3 separate regions of the Homo sapiens genome follow, and all the other regions are linked to region 2. The links come from fine-mapping of genetic effects on gene expression. A gene starts in region 2. Each other region holds a variant in brackets. All regions are shown on one strand. Distances are from middle to middle. Region 1 overlaps LMF1 (lipase maturation factor 1). Region 2 holds the start of LMF1 (lipase maturation factor 1). Region 3 overlaps LMF1 (lipase maturation factor 1).

The links.
Region 1: its variant is fine-mapped to the expression of LMF1 in whole blood (TOPMed, PIP above 0.99).
Region 3: its variant is fine-mapped to the expression of LMF1 in whole blood (INTERVAL, PIP above 0.99).

Annotation. Positions count from the first base shown.
Region 1 is chr16:854,760-858,866 of GRCh38, reverse strand. The region is part of intron 10 of LMF1 (lipase maturation factor 1); the gene reads left to right. Among named protein-coding and RNA genes, the nearest start is that of GNG13, 56 kb to the right of the region's middle. The variant G/A (reference allele first, on the strand shown) is at 1,828.
Region 2 is chr16:968,788-972,900 of GRCh38, reverse strand. LMF1 (lipase maturation factor 1) reads left to right here and starts at 1,917. Exons shown (of 11, transcript NM_022773.4): 1 at 1,917-2,113. The coding sequence starts at 1,921. RefSeq lists enhancers at 1-738, 2,721-3,712 and a silencer at 1,506-2,675.
Region 3 is chr16:933,739-937,851 of GRCh38, reverse strand. It overlaps LMF1 (lipase maturation factor 1), which reads left to right. Exons shown (of 11, transcript NM_022773.4): 3 at 3,598-3,608. LMF1-AS1 (LMF1 antisense RNA 1) reads right to left here. Exons shown (of 2, transcript NR_110946.1): 2 at 3,328-4,113. Among named protein-coding and RNA genes, the nearest start is that of LMF1-AS1, 15 kb to the right of the region's middle. The variant G/A (reference allele first, on the strand shown) is at 2,082.

The DNA of each region.
Region 1 (4,107 bases), 110 kb after region 2:
CACCCGTCCCGTGACACCACTCACACCCGTCCCGTGACACCACTCACACCCGTCCCGAGACACCACTCACACCCGTCCCGTGACACCACTGCACACCCGTCCCGTGACACCAGTCACACCCGTCCCGAGACACCACTCACACCCGTCCCGAGACACCACTCACACCCGTCCCGTGACACCACTCACACCCGTCCCGTGACACCACTCACACCCGTCCCGAGACACCACTGCACACCCGTCCCGAGACACCACTGCACACCCGTCCCGAGACACCACTCACACCCGTCCCGAGACACCACTCACACCCGTCCCGAGACACCACTGCACACCCGTCCCGAGACACCACTGCACACCCGTCCCGAGACACCACGCACACCCGTCCCGAGTCACCACTGCACACCCGTCCCGAGTCACCACTCACACCCGTCCCGTGACACCACTCACACCCGTCCCGTGACACCACTCACACCCGTCCCGAGACACCACTCACACCCGTCCCGAGACACCACTGCACACCCGTCCCGAGACACCACTCACACCCATCCCGAGACACCACTGCACACCCATCCCGAGACACCACTGCACACCCATCCCGAGACACCACTGCACACCCATCCCGTGACACCACTCACACCCATCCCGTGACACCACGCACACCCATCCCGAGACACCACTCACACCCATCCCGTGACACCACGCACACCCATCCCGAGACACCACTCACACCCATCCCGTGACACCACTCACACCCATCCCGAGACACCACTCACACCCATCCCGAGACACCACTCACACCCATCCCGAGACACCACTGCACACCCATCCCGAGACACCACTCACACCCATCCCGAGACACCACTCACACCCATCCCGAGACACCACGCACACCCATCCCGAGACACCACGCACACCCATCCCGAGACACCACGCACACCCATCCCGAGACACCACGCACACCCATCCCGAGACACCACTGCACACCCATCCCGTGACACCACGCACACCCATCCCGAGACACCACTCACACCCATCCCGAGACACCACTCACACCCATCCCGAGACACCACGCACACCCATCCCGAGACACCACGCACACCCGTCCCGAGACACCACTGCACACCCGTCCCGAGACACCACGCACACCCGTCCCGAGACACCACGCACACCCGTCCCGAGACACCACTCACACCCGTCCCGTGACACCACTCACACCCGTCCCGTGACACCACTCACACCCGTCCCGTGACATCACTCACACCCGTCCCGTGACACCACTCACACCCGTCCCGAGACACCACTCACACCCGTCCCGTGACACCACTCACACCCGTCCCGTGACACCACTCACACCCGTCCCGAGACACCACTCACACCCGTCCGGTGACACCACTCACACCCGTCCCGAGACACCACTCACACCCGTCCCGTGACACCACTGCACACCCATCAAAACGGCTGGAATAAAAGTAGCAACAACCCCACATGCTGGCAAAGATACCAAGAAATCGAGTCACTCGGCTGTTGCTGGGAGGGTAAAATGGCTCCTCAAAAAGGACACCCGAAGTTGCAGTGGACTCAGCAGCTGCTTCCATGGACGTTTAAGCCAGAGAGTTGAAACCCAGGTTCACGCAGAAACCCGTGCAGAGGTTTACGGCAGCCGTCACAGACAAAAACTGCAAAGAGCTCAGCTGTCCTTCCACAAGAGAGCGACCGCACAAACTAGGGTGCACTCACGCCGCAGACGCCGGTCAGCGACGAGGAGGAAGGAAGCCTCCATCACACGACCTGGCGGAACCTGAGAATTGGCGTGAGAATCGCCTGCCCCGC[G/A]GGTACGTGCCGCAGGGTTCCACTCATTCTTGAAATCATACGTTCTTGAAATCACACAAGGAGGCCGAAGGTCGGGGAGGGTGTGGAAGGACACGGGGGTCCGGGCGTGGATGGGACCCGTGTCTGTGGCCTCAGTGTCAGGCCCTGGCTGCAATCCCTACTATAGCTGTGCAAGATGCCCAGCTGTTGCCAGTAGGGTCTATTTCAAAAGGGCTGGGAGATCCCCTATTTTCAACACTCTCAAGCCCTCCGGGGCGGTGCCATGGCCTTCTCGGGTACTTTGTCTGCAGGAATGAAATGCAACCCTTCAGGCCGCTGGGGCCTGGGGCCCCTTCCCACCAACCTGCCAGTTGGCACAGAGGGTTCTGACCCTTTCCAAAACCCTTTCCAAACTGCAGTTCCAGCTCTTGATGTCAGAGACCAGGCCCTGGGCCCCCTAGGCCTTGACCCTGTCCTGGGAAGGAGCAGAAAGCAAGAGCAGGAATTTGGGAAAGATGGGCAATCCCACTGCAGGAGGCCTTCCCAGGATCCCCACCCTCCCGGCCTCACTAAATGCAGGGTTTGGGAGAGGGTGGGCCTGCCTGGGGACTGCATTGCCCTAGCAAGGCCCAGGAGAGTGTGCAGGGACCATGCTGCCCGCACAGCCCAGCGCCCTCACGGCCGCATTCCAGCCCGTCCCTTCAGTCTGCTGCTGAGCTGCTCAGAGGTCGACCTCGGGGTCCAGTGTGACTTCTCTGCCTGGCACCACCTGGCCTCAGTCCCCATGCTGGCCGCTGCCGTCCTTATAGCCAAGGAAAACCATGGCAGCCTCAGGCCCAAGGGGTCCAGGAAAGACCCCTGGGGCCCAGGGCAGTGGGCAGTGCCCTCCTGGAGTGGACGGGAGCCACCAACTGCCAGCATCACCCTCAGTCTTGGCTGCCCGGGAGGTTTTCCAAAGGCCCGACCCCACTCCTCTTGGAGCTGCTGATCCCTCTCTCCCATCAGGCGCCTCAGGGACCCTCCTCCACCCAGAGGGTCTCTGTCTTCCCGGTTTTCCTGGCGTAATTCAGACTTGGGGAGAGAAGAATCATCATCCATCACACACCCAGACCCAAAGAGACTCAAAGCCAGGAGGAGCCGGGTGGACCCAGAGGCCCTCACCCTGCCAGCCTAAGGGGCATGGCCCAAGGTCTCCACCCCCAGCCCCCAGAGCACAGCTGTGTGCAGGTCACCAGAAGCCCCAAATAATGACAGCAGCCCAGACAGTCGCTACCGGGCCCTGGTGCAGTGTGAAGCCTCTGGCACCTGCCTGGGCTCATTCCAGGGGCCATGAGAGGGTCCTGTTATGGCTGCACCATCACACCCACCGGGCAGCTGGGGCCCAGCTCTGCCATGGATCCCAGCCAGGCAGCAGCCGCCCTGTGGGCTGAGAAGCTTCCGCTCCTGCTGCACAACTGCGAAGGGGCCTGGAGGGCCGGGAGCTTGTGACGGTGACAATTCCTCCTGGCGCCTCCTCCTCCGGGGCAGCCGAGCAACCCTGGACATGAGGGGGCTTCGTCCCACCCCCAGGAGAAAATGCCCAGTCCTCCGAGAGTCCAGTGAGGGCTTGCCAGCCAGGGACCAAGACCCAGTATGGCCTAAACCAGGCCTGGTCACCAGGGGTCAGGCGGGACCTTATACAGGGCTCAGCAGAGAGACCTGCCCGCTACCCTGCTCCAGGGGAGATGGGGGTGGGGGCCTTCATCCCACTCGGGCATGACAGAGGAGAGCAGCCAGCCAGCATCTGCACGTCTCAGGCAGGGAAGGGCCTGAAGCCCTGGGAAGCAGAGGCTCCGCCCTCAGGAAACAGGTCCCGGCCTGGCTCCCTCACAGCCTCGGACTGCCCCGTGGACCGAAACCCCCAGGCACCTTGCGCCAGGACTGGCCTGATGGTGGAGACGCCACACCATGAGCAGTAGGTTCCTCTCCCCACCTTCCCAGGCGGGGGACACTTGGGGCTCAAACTGGGGCCTTGTGAACGGTCTCAGGCTTGCTCAGTGCCACCCGTGAAGCTCCTGGCCTTCCCCGGGCCGGTCCCTCTGCCAAGTGGGCCCTGCTGGGTCTCCCCTCCCGGAGCTGCCCCCCGTCCGCCCTTCCCCCTTGCTGCGCTGTTCACTGCTGAGGGTGCCGACTGGAACAGTTGCCCTGCCCGGGGTCTGCTGGGGGTCTACCTGTGCTCAGGGTGGGGGCTCCTCATGCAGCCCCTCTGTCCGTGGGGGACCCTGTGAGCAGCTGCAGCTCAGCAGCAGGCTGAGGAGCCGG
Region 2 (4,113 bases):
TCAAGAGAGCAGACCCTGAGGGAAACTTGAGCTCAGAGAGAACAGGAGCTCCCAGCAGACCCTTCCGCTGACTGCTCCCACCCTGGGCAAATGCAGAGCCGGAGCCCGGAGCGCTGGAAGCTGGAACAAGAGGCCCTTTTCTGCTCTGCACAATGCCCCATTGTGCCCTTCGCGGGGAGAGCAGCTCGGCCCAGCGAGGGGAAGCTGTGCACAAAGCCTCCTTGTGAGGGCAGCCCCACCTGAGGACAGCGCAGGGCCACACCTGACGCAGGGCAGTCCCTCTCGCCGTCCGTCCCCTAGCAGGCCTGGCACCCAGACAGGGCCCGCTCTGCAGGCGTGGTCCCAGGGTGTGGGGCTCCCTGTTCCCCACAGATGAGGGGAACAGTGTGGGCTGTGCCGGCCCTTCCTAAGCTGGCCCCCAGGTCACGAGGAGAGGTACGGGTCGTGGGCTCTGTGGAGGGACTTGGGTGCCGGGCGCCAGCCAGGGCCGATGCCTCCTGCGATCCCCAAGGCTCCGAGCCCTCAGGCACACACCACGCTCCCGGAGGCTGGGCCAGCATGCGGAGGATGTTTGTGTGTTCGTACCCGTTGCAACATCTTTAACAGGGTCCCATTTCACAGCTGGGCTCCTAAGGGGGGTTTCATAGAAAAGAAATGGAAACTAAAAATGAATTAAACCATAAGATGTACACGTATGCTACGGCCCCAGCAACACAGGGAAGGTGGAGGCTGAGAGGAAGCTCGGGCCACTGCTGGTCAGGCCTGGATTTGGGGGCCCGATGTCCACAGTCAGTCCCTGCCCACACAAGGCTCACACTGCAGGTGGTGAAGATATAATTAAACAGGTAATTAAACAAGCAATAAAGACGGGTCATTTGACCAACCCAGTGGCGATAATTGATACGCCAAAACACTAGGAAAGCTAGAGAGGCAAAAGAGAAGAATACATGAAAACAAAAACAAAAAACCAGGACAAATATTTCCAATATACACAAAAGAACAGGATTTTTCATACGTAAAGAGTGCTGACAAATGAATAAGGAGAAATCTGCACTTCCACCTAAGTGCCCCACAGTTTATTCACTAACCCCTAGGTCTCCAATGCCTACTCTAGCCTCACGCCCTTTCTTTCCTCTAAGGAATGCCTGTGACCCCAGCCCTTCCTAGCACCCGCTTCACATCAGCCTCCAGAACCCCGCTCCAGTCATCAGAGTGTAGAGTGCTGGCGTCCTCCTTCATGTTCTGTTTGGGGCATTGGGCAGTTAGCCCTTCCCTCCTGAGTCCTGAGTCCCCCTCTTCCCCCACAGCTTGAAGTCCAGTCCCAAGGGCAGGCAGGAGCTGGGTTGTGCAAAGGCGGAAGGGTGCTCAGGCTGGGAGAAAGGGGAGGGTCCCCCGAGCATTCCAGGCACAGCCCTGCCTACTCTGTCCCTTGCTGGCTGCGACGATCGCCCTAGCACCCTCCTCCGCAGAGAGTGAGTGTCAGCTGTGAGGCAGGGGCACGCAGTGGTAGCACCGCCAGGGCCTGTGCAGCCCACCTTCCCCAGGACCACAGCTGGGAAGGCGCCTGGCTGGGGGAGGGCACCTGGCCTCTGCAACTCGGACTGACGGAAGGCACGCGTGCCTGCCCCAGTGAGCTCGGGTCGGGCGACGCGCACCACCTCCCAGGTACCCGGCCCCGCGCCCTACCCGCAGCAGCGCCCAGCGAGAACTGCGAAGGAGGCAGGCTCCGGGCACCCGCTCCCGCGCGTGGGCGGGGCCGGCTGGAGGGGGCGGTGCCTCCGGGACTGTGAGCGGGGCCTCCCGGGGTGTGGGTGGGGCCTTCGGCCGTGGGCAGGGCCGGCCAGGGAGAGGCGGGGCCTCCGAGAATGGGCGGGGCCTCCGAGAATGGGCGGGGCCTCCGGGAGTGCGCCCTCCCCGCACATGCGCCCTGACAGCCCAACAATGGCGGCGCCCGCGGAGTCGCTGAGGAGGCGGAAGACTGGGTACTCGGATCCGGAGCCTGAGTCGCCGCCCGCGCCGGGGCGTGGCCCCGCAGGCTCTCCGGCCCATCTCCACACGGGCACCTTCTGGCTGACCCGGATCGTGCTCCTGAAGGCCCTAGCCTTCGTGTACTGTGAGTGCCGGGCGGGCCCGGGACATCCGCCAGTGTCACCTCCGCGCACCACGACCCCCGCCCTCCCTCGAGACTCCTCCGCGCGGTCTCGCGGCCGCGGCGCCCCCACGCAGCCCTCCTTCCTGCTGGGGCCCGGGCAAGGCGGGGCGGGCAGGGCAGGACAAGGCTTGCTGGCGACAGCGCACCCGGCCCTACCCCTGTCGCCGCCTCGAGCCTCCGGCCTGGGCTCCTGGGCTCCCGGTTCCACCCGCAGCCCCGAAGTTGCACGGCCGCGCCTGCCAGGACCGGCTCGGGGCTATGCGAGGCGGGGCCGGCCCGGGCCCTGGCCCAGGAGTTCCCAGGAGAGCTGGGCAGGTGGAGGGTCACCCGTCCGTGCGCAGGTCGGGGGTCTGCGTCCTGGCTGCGGGGCGGGGGGCGGCCTGGAGAGGCGAGGCGCTCCTGCTGTCCCCGACACAGCGCTGTGCTGACGGTGAAGGTTCCCACTGTAACTGGACGCCCGCACGCCACATCCCTGCCGCGTGCGGCCCCTGCCAAAATCCGAGGAGCCGGCCCGGGAGCCTCCTTCGCGTCTCCCAGGGGCTGAGGGAAGGTGACTGGCTGGTGGCCAGACTGGAGTTTCTCCTTTAGTGTTCTCGACTAGCTCAGTCTGCGTTCGGGAAGATTCCCAGCGGAGGTCTGGGGGCAGCTCCGGAACCTCATCTGCAAGTGAAGCCTGCGCCTCACTGTGGGATGTGGTTGGCCGGGTCCACTGGCGGAGACCCTTCACCCCACAGCTGTGCGGGGCCCGCGTGCGCAGCCTACAGAGCAGAGCTCTGAGAAAAGTCAGTTCACGCTCAAAACCTCTGGATCCCCTGGCCAGGGGCAGCTGGCGATTCCAACTCCCTCTCTCCCCAGTCCCTACAACCCAGAACTGGTTTGGAAGAGAACGGTTCTGTGATCACGGTGACATGTGATCACACGGATACATGTTTCATAAGCCCAACGTGTCAGGAGCTACGAACCTCAAGTGAGGCTCTCAAATGAGTATGGAAGTGAGGGGAGCCTGCCAGGCCGAGATGCAGCCAGCGGGGCGCGTGGGCAGTCACCGTCCCAGAGGGCTCCGGAGCTGCTGGCCCCGGGCGTTGCCCACGCGTTGGTTGTAGGCCGTGGGCATTGGACGTCTCCCTTTCCTTCCATCGTCTGCTTCCCTCACGTGTGGAAGGAAAGGGTCAGGTTGCAGAAGTTCTTCTTTGCACAGCCTTTGTGCCACACACGTCGCGGGAAGTTTGGTAGCCTGGTTGTGCTGGAGTGATGCTCAGTTCGACGTTTTGTGTGACATTTGTGTGATACTTTCCACCTCCTGGTGCAAAGTGATGAGACGCGCTCATCACTACAAGGTTTCCTGTGGGATTGCAGTATCGGCTTCAACTGGGTCTGTGTCTCTCTCTCTCTTTCTTTAAAGCAACTATTTTATTTTATTTATTTATTTTTTTCGAGACGGAGTCTCACTCTGTTGCCCAGGCTGGAGCGCAACGGCACCATGTCGGCCCACTGCAACCTCCGTCTCCTGGGTTCAAGCGATTCTCCTGCCTCAGCCTTCCGAGTAGCTGGGATTATAGGCACGCACCACCATGCCTGACTAATTTTTAAAAATATTTTTAGTAGAGACAGGGTTTCACCATGTTGGCCAGGCTGGTCTCGAACTTCTGACCTCAGGGCCTCCCAAAGTGCTGGGATTACAAGCGTGAGCCACTATGCCCGGCCTGCAATTATTTTAAAAAGTAGTTCTTCCCAGGTTGCTTTTCCCTCCACAGTATTAAACAGTCATTTTAAATGTTGGTGCTGTCACTTAGCAAACGATGAAGTAGAGATAAAGTGAAGCTGTGAGGCTCTAATAGGCCTTCCACAGGGGAGCCCGAGATACAGCAGGAAGTCCCAGCGGCCTTGCCTCCGGAGCACAGCTTCATAAAACCAGCTCAGACTCTTTCAAACGAGCTGAGGCTCCTTTGATCTCCGCAGGG
Region 3 (4,113 bases), 35 kb after region 2:
CACTCTAGATAGGCCTCCAGCAAAGTTCTTTGCACTAGGCCAGAAACTGGAAGATTTCTTACAAATTTACAACTAGCCTGCCCCAAAATGGGGAGCATAAAATTTAACAAATATTTATACATGAAGTCTTTTTACAGATGATAAGTAGCTGGAGCCAAATGTGTTTTTAAATCAAAAGCTTCCTATAGAAATGGGAGCCCCCATCCAGTGCAAGGGGCAGGGCCTGTGCTGGGGCCGTGTGCAGCATCTGCAGGGCATCGGGGGTCTTGCTGCCTCCCTAGCACAGAGACCCCAACGACCTGTCAGTCAACAGAGACCCCAGCAGCCTGTCGGTCAACAGAGACCCCAGCAGCCTGTCAGTCAACAGAGACCCCAGCGGCCTGTCAGTCAGGTGTGGAGGCTCACAGGGGAGCAGGTTCCTGACCTCACTAGGCAGTCAGAGGGAGCGTGTTAACCCCGACCATCCAAAAGCAAAATCTACGTCCCACTGTCCAGGAAAGGACTTGAGTTTCTTTAAAGAACAAAACAGCAGAACAAACCCAGAAGAACTCCACGGAGTCGGTATCTTCTAACGTGAGTTCCAACTGTTGAAAATGTAATAAAAGCTATGAAAGTAATAAGACGTTTTAGTTTTTCGTGTCATTACCTTAGCTAAAACCTGCTATTTAAAGATTCTTTTATCAGGCAGCCTTGAAATGCAAAATTCAAAGCAGGTGAAGTGACAGAAGAATGCATTTTCGAACACCCTCAGCCGATGTGAAGGCAGCTGCGTCTGGACTCACCCCTTCTCTGCACAACGCTTGTATTTTGGTGGCCCTGAGTCACTGAAACTCTTCCAGGCCTTGGTCCCTTCTGATAAAAGCGTGAGGCTGCGTCTTTTTAGCTAGGATCTCCCGCCCTGTCGCCCAGGCTGGAGTGCAATAGTAGCGCGATCTTGGCTCACTGCAGCCTGGAACTCCTGGGCTTAAGCCATCTTCCAGCCTCGGCCCCAAGGTCACTGGGACTACAGGTGTGCGCCACCACACCTGGCTAATAAAAGAGCAAAGCTTTTATTCTCTATGGATTTGAAAAATCAGCTCCTTTTCCTTTCTCCGTTCAACTAAGGTTATATATTGGGAACATTTTGGGGGTAAATTTATTTCTAGCATTAGCCAATGTGTACAGCGGTTGCTTGGAAGATTTTGGTCACGGAAAGGGGGGCAGGGAGTGTATCCTGCAGCCCACAGAGTGCCCTCTCTCCCTCCCAGCCTCCTTCCTCAGCCCACGGGGTGCCCTCTCTCCCTCCCAGCCAGCTTCCTCAGCCCACGGGGTACCCCCTCTCTCCCAGCCTCCTTCCTGAGCCCACAGGGTGCCTCCTCTCTCTCCCAGCCACCTTCCTCAGCCCACGGGGTGCCCTCCCTCCCTCCCAGCCTCCTTCCTCAGCCCACGGGGTGCCCTCTCTCCCTCCCAGCCTGCTTCCTCAGCCCACGGGGTACCCCCTCTCTCCTAGCCTCCTTCCTCAGCCCACACGGTGCCCCCTCTCTCTCCCAGCCACCTTCCTCAGCCCACGGGGTGCCCTCTCTCCCTCCCAGCCTCCTTCCTCAGCCCACGGGGTGCCCTCTCTCCCTCCCAGCCTCCTTCCTCAGCCCACGGGGTACCCCCTCTCTCCCAGCCTCCTTCCTCAGCCCACACGGTGCCCCCTCTGTCTCCCAGCCACCTTCCTCAGCCCACGGGGTGCCCTCTCTCCCTCCCAGCCTCCTTCCTCAGCCAACGGGGTGCCCTCTCTCCCTCCCAGCCTTCTTCCTCTGGAGTGAAAAGCAAATCTAGACTTCGTACTCTTTTACCTATAAATAGTGTGGACCTCTACCGGGTAAGGGATGATTTAAAAAGATATCAGAGCCACTGGGGCAGCCACACACCTGATGCGGTTGAAGAATGAGCCCTCCAGTACTCTGTCCCCGCCCACCTCCCCCACGGCTCAGATGTCGTTTGTCATGGCCTTTGCTGTGCTTTTATCGTAATGTCAAGGTGGAAAATCACAGACATATTCAAAGGTCGGACGATGTAGGGAGCCCTGGGATGGGCAGTGGGCCCTGAGGGCC[G/A]TCCCACACCCTGTAGCTTTTCATTCCTGTGGATTTCATTAGGCAACGTTGCTCCTTAATGTCTTTAGTGAGATAGAATTCACATACCATAAAACTGCATTTAAAGCAAGCTTGTCCACACGCGGCTCAGGATGGCTTTGAATGAGACCCAACACAAATTCATAAACTTTCTTAAAACATTATGAGTTTTTTTTTTTTTAGCTCATCAGCTGTCACTAGTGTTAGTATATTTTATGTGTGGCCCAAGACAATTTTTCTTCTTCCATTGTGGCCCACGGAAGCCACAAGATTGGACAACCGACAACCCTGACATAAAGTGTACAAGTCAGCGTACATATTCATGGACTCTGAAGCCATCAGCACCACGTTGAAAACATTCTGGCTGGGGCAGTTCACACCTGTCATCCCAGCACTTAGGGAGGTGGAGGCAGGAGGATCGCCTGAGTCTAGGAGTTTGAGACCAGCCAGGGCAACATGGCAAAACCTCTATAGAAAATACAAAAATTAGTGGGGCATCATGGTGTACACCTGTGGTCCCAGCAACTCAGGAGGCTGAGGCGGGAGGACTGCTTCAGCCCAGGAGCTTGAGGTTGTAGTGAGGTTATGCACCGCTGCACTCCAACCTGGGTGATAGAATGAGACCGTGTCTCAAAAAAAAAAAAAAATTCTGATCAACCCCAGGATAAACCTGGCAATCTACCTCCTGTGTCTGTGGACCGGCCTGTTCCGTACATTTCGTGTCCACAAACCACATGCTGTGCCTTCTACGTCAGGTGTGGCACTGAGCACCTGAGGCAGGGCTCCTCATGCGGGCATTGGTGCATCCTGCCCGCCTCTTGCGGGACCATAGGTGGCAGAGGGGGTTTCTTCTAGAGCCCAAGGGTAGGTCTTGCTGTGAGGTGGGGTGGGGTTAGAGAGGTCAGAGGCTGAGGCAGGTGTGGGATGCATTGGTGTTGCTTTCCCGCGGCTCTGCCTCCTCTAGACACCCGTGCTGCTTGCCCACGCCTCTGCTGTCTGAGGGTAAGAAGCGGGTCACAGCATCACTGAAACCCCTTTTGGTTGGGATTCAATAGTAAAGACACAGGCCTTGCCCAGCCTTTCCCACCAATTCCTTTCATTTAAGATCCCTTTTCTAATGAGCTGCGCTCGAGGTCATGTGATGTCCTTAAATTTTCAGATTCCAGAGTATGACATTTGCCGTGGCATTTAATTGATGCTGCAAAAAAATAAGTATTAATTCACTCATTCGCAAAATACATATTTTTTTATTTCTATGGGTACTTAGTAGGTGTATCTTGGAATATGTTTTGGTTGCCTGTTCTGGGCCTGCCTGTGTGTGAGCCGTGGGGAGGGGCTCCTGTTCCCCTAATGCCCAGCGGGCAGGTCCTCCTCGCAGGGCTTCCCTGACCCCACACCGTGCTGGGTGCCAGGGTGGGCTTCACTCAGTGGGGAAACAGTGGGTTTTTGGTTGAAACAAGCCAAAGTGTTAATACTCGTTTCTTCTTTTGTTTTTCAGGTACTCTTTCGGTAAGTGAGATGCATTTAGAGAAAGCTCTGCGAGAGTTGAGCGTTGTGTGTTTGGTATGTATCTTCACGCACTTTTCCTGGCCTCTCCCCTTCCTTAGCCTCTGCCATCAGCCTTCCCAGTATGCACGGAGGGCAGTGATGGGCGCTTGTGATCTGATCCGTGCCTCCTCCCTGGATGTGGGAGCTCCTGGGCTTCCAGGCCCCGGGCACCTAGAGACGGATGGTCGCACGCATGATTGTCGGCATCTCACAGGTGTGATTACCACCGCTTCCCTGGGGCAGAGGGAAAGCACCCACAGGCCCATCCCCCGTGGACGCTCAAGGCTGTGTGCCCCTCGGCATAGAGAAGGTTCACGGTGCTCACGGCACTCACGCTGGTGGGCACTTTGGCTTGTGCTTTGTTTGGTGGAGGGGACCGGAGGTCTTCCCCATCCCACACAACGCAGTCAATACTGGAGGGTGGGAAGAGGGCAGCCACCCAGTGGACAGGACAGGGCCGGGAGGA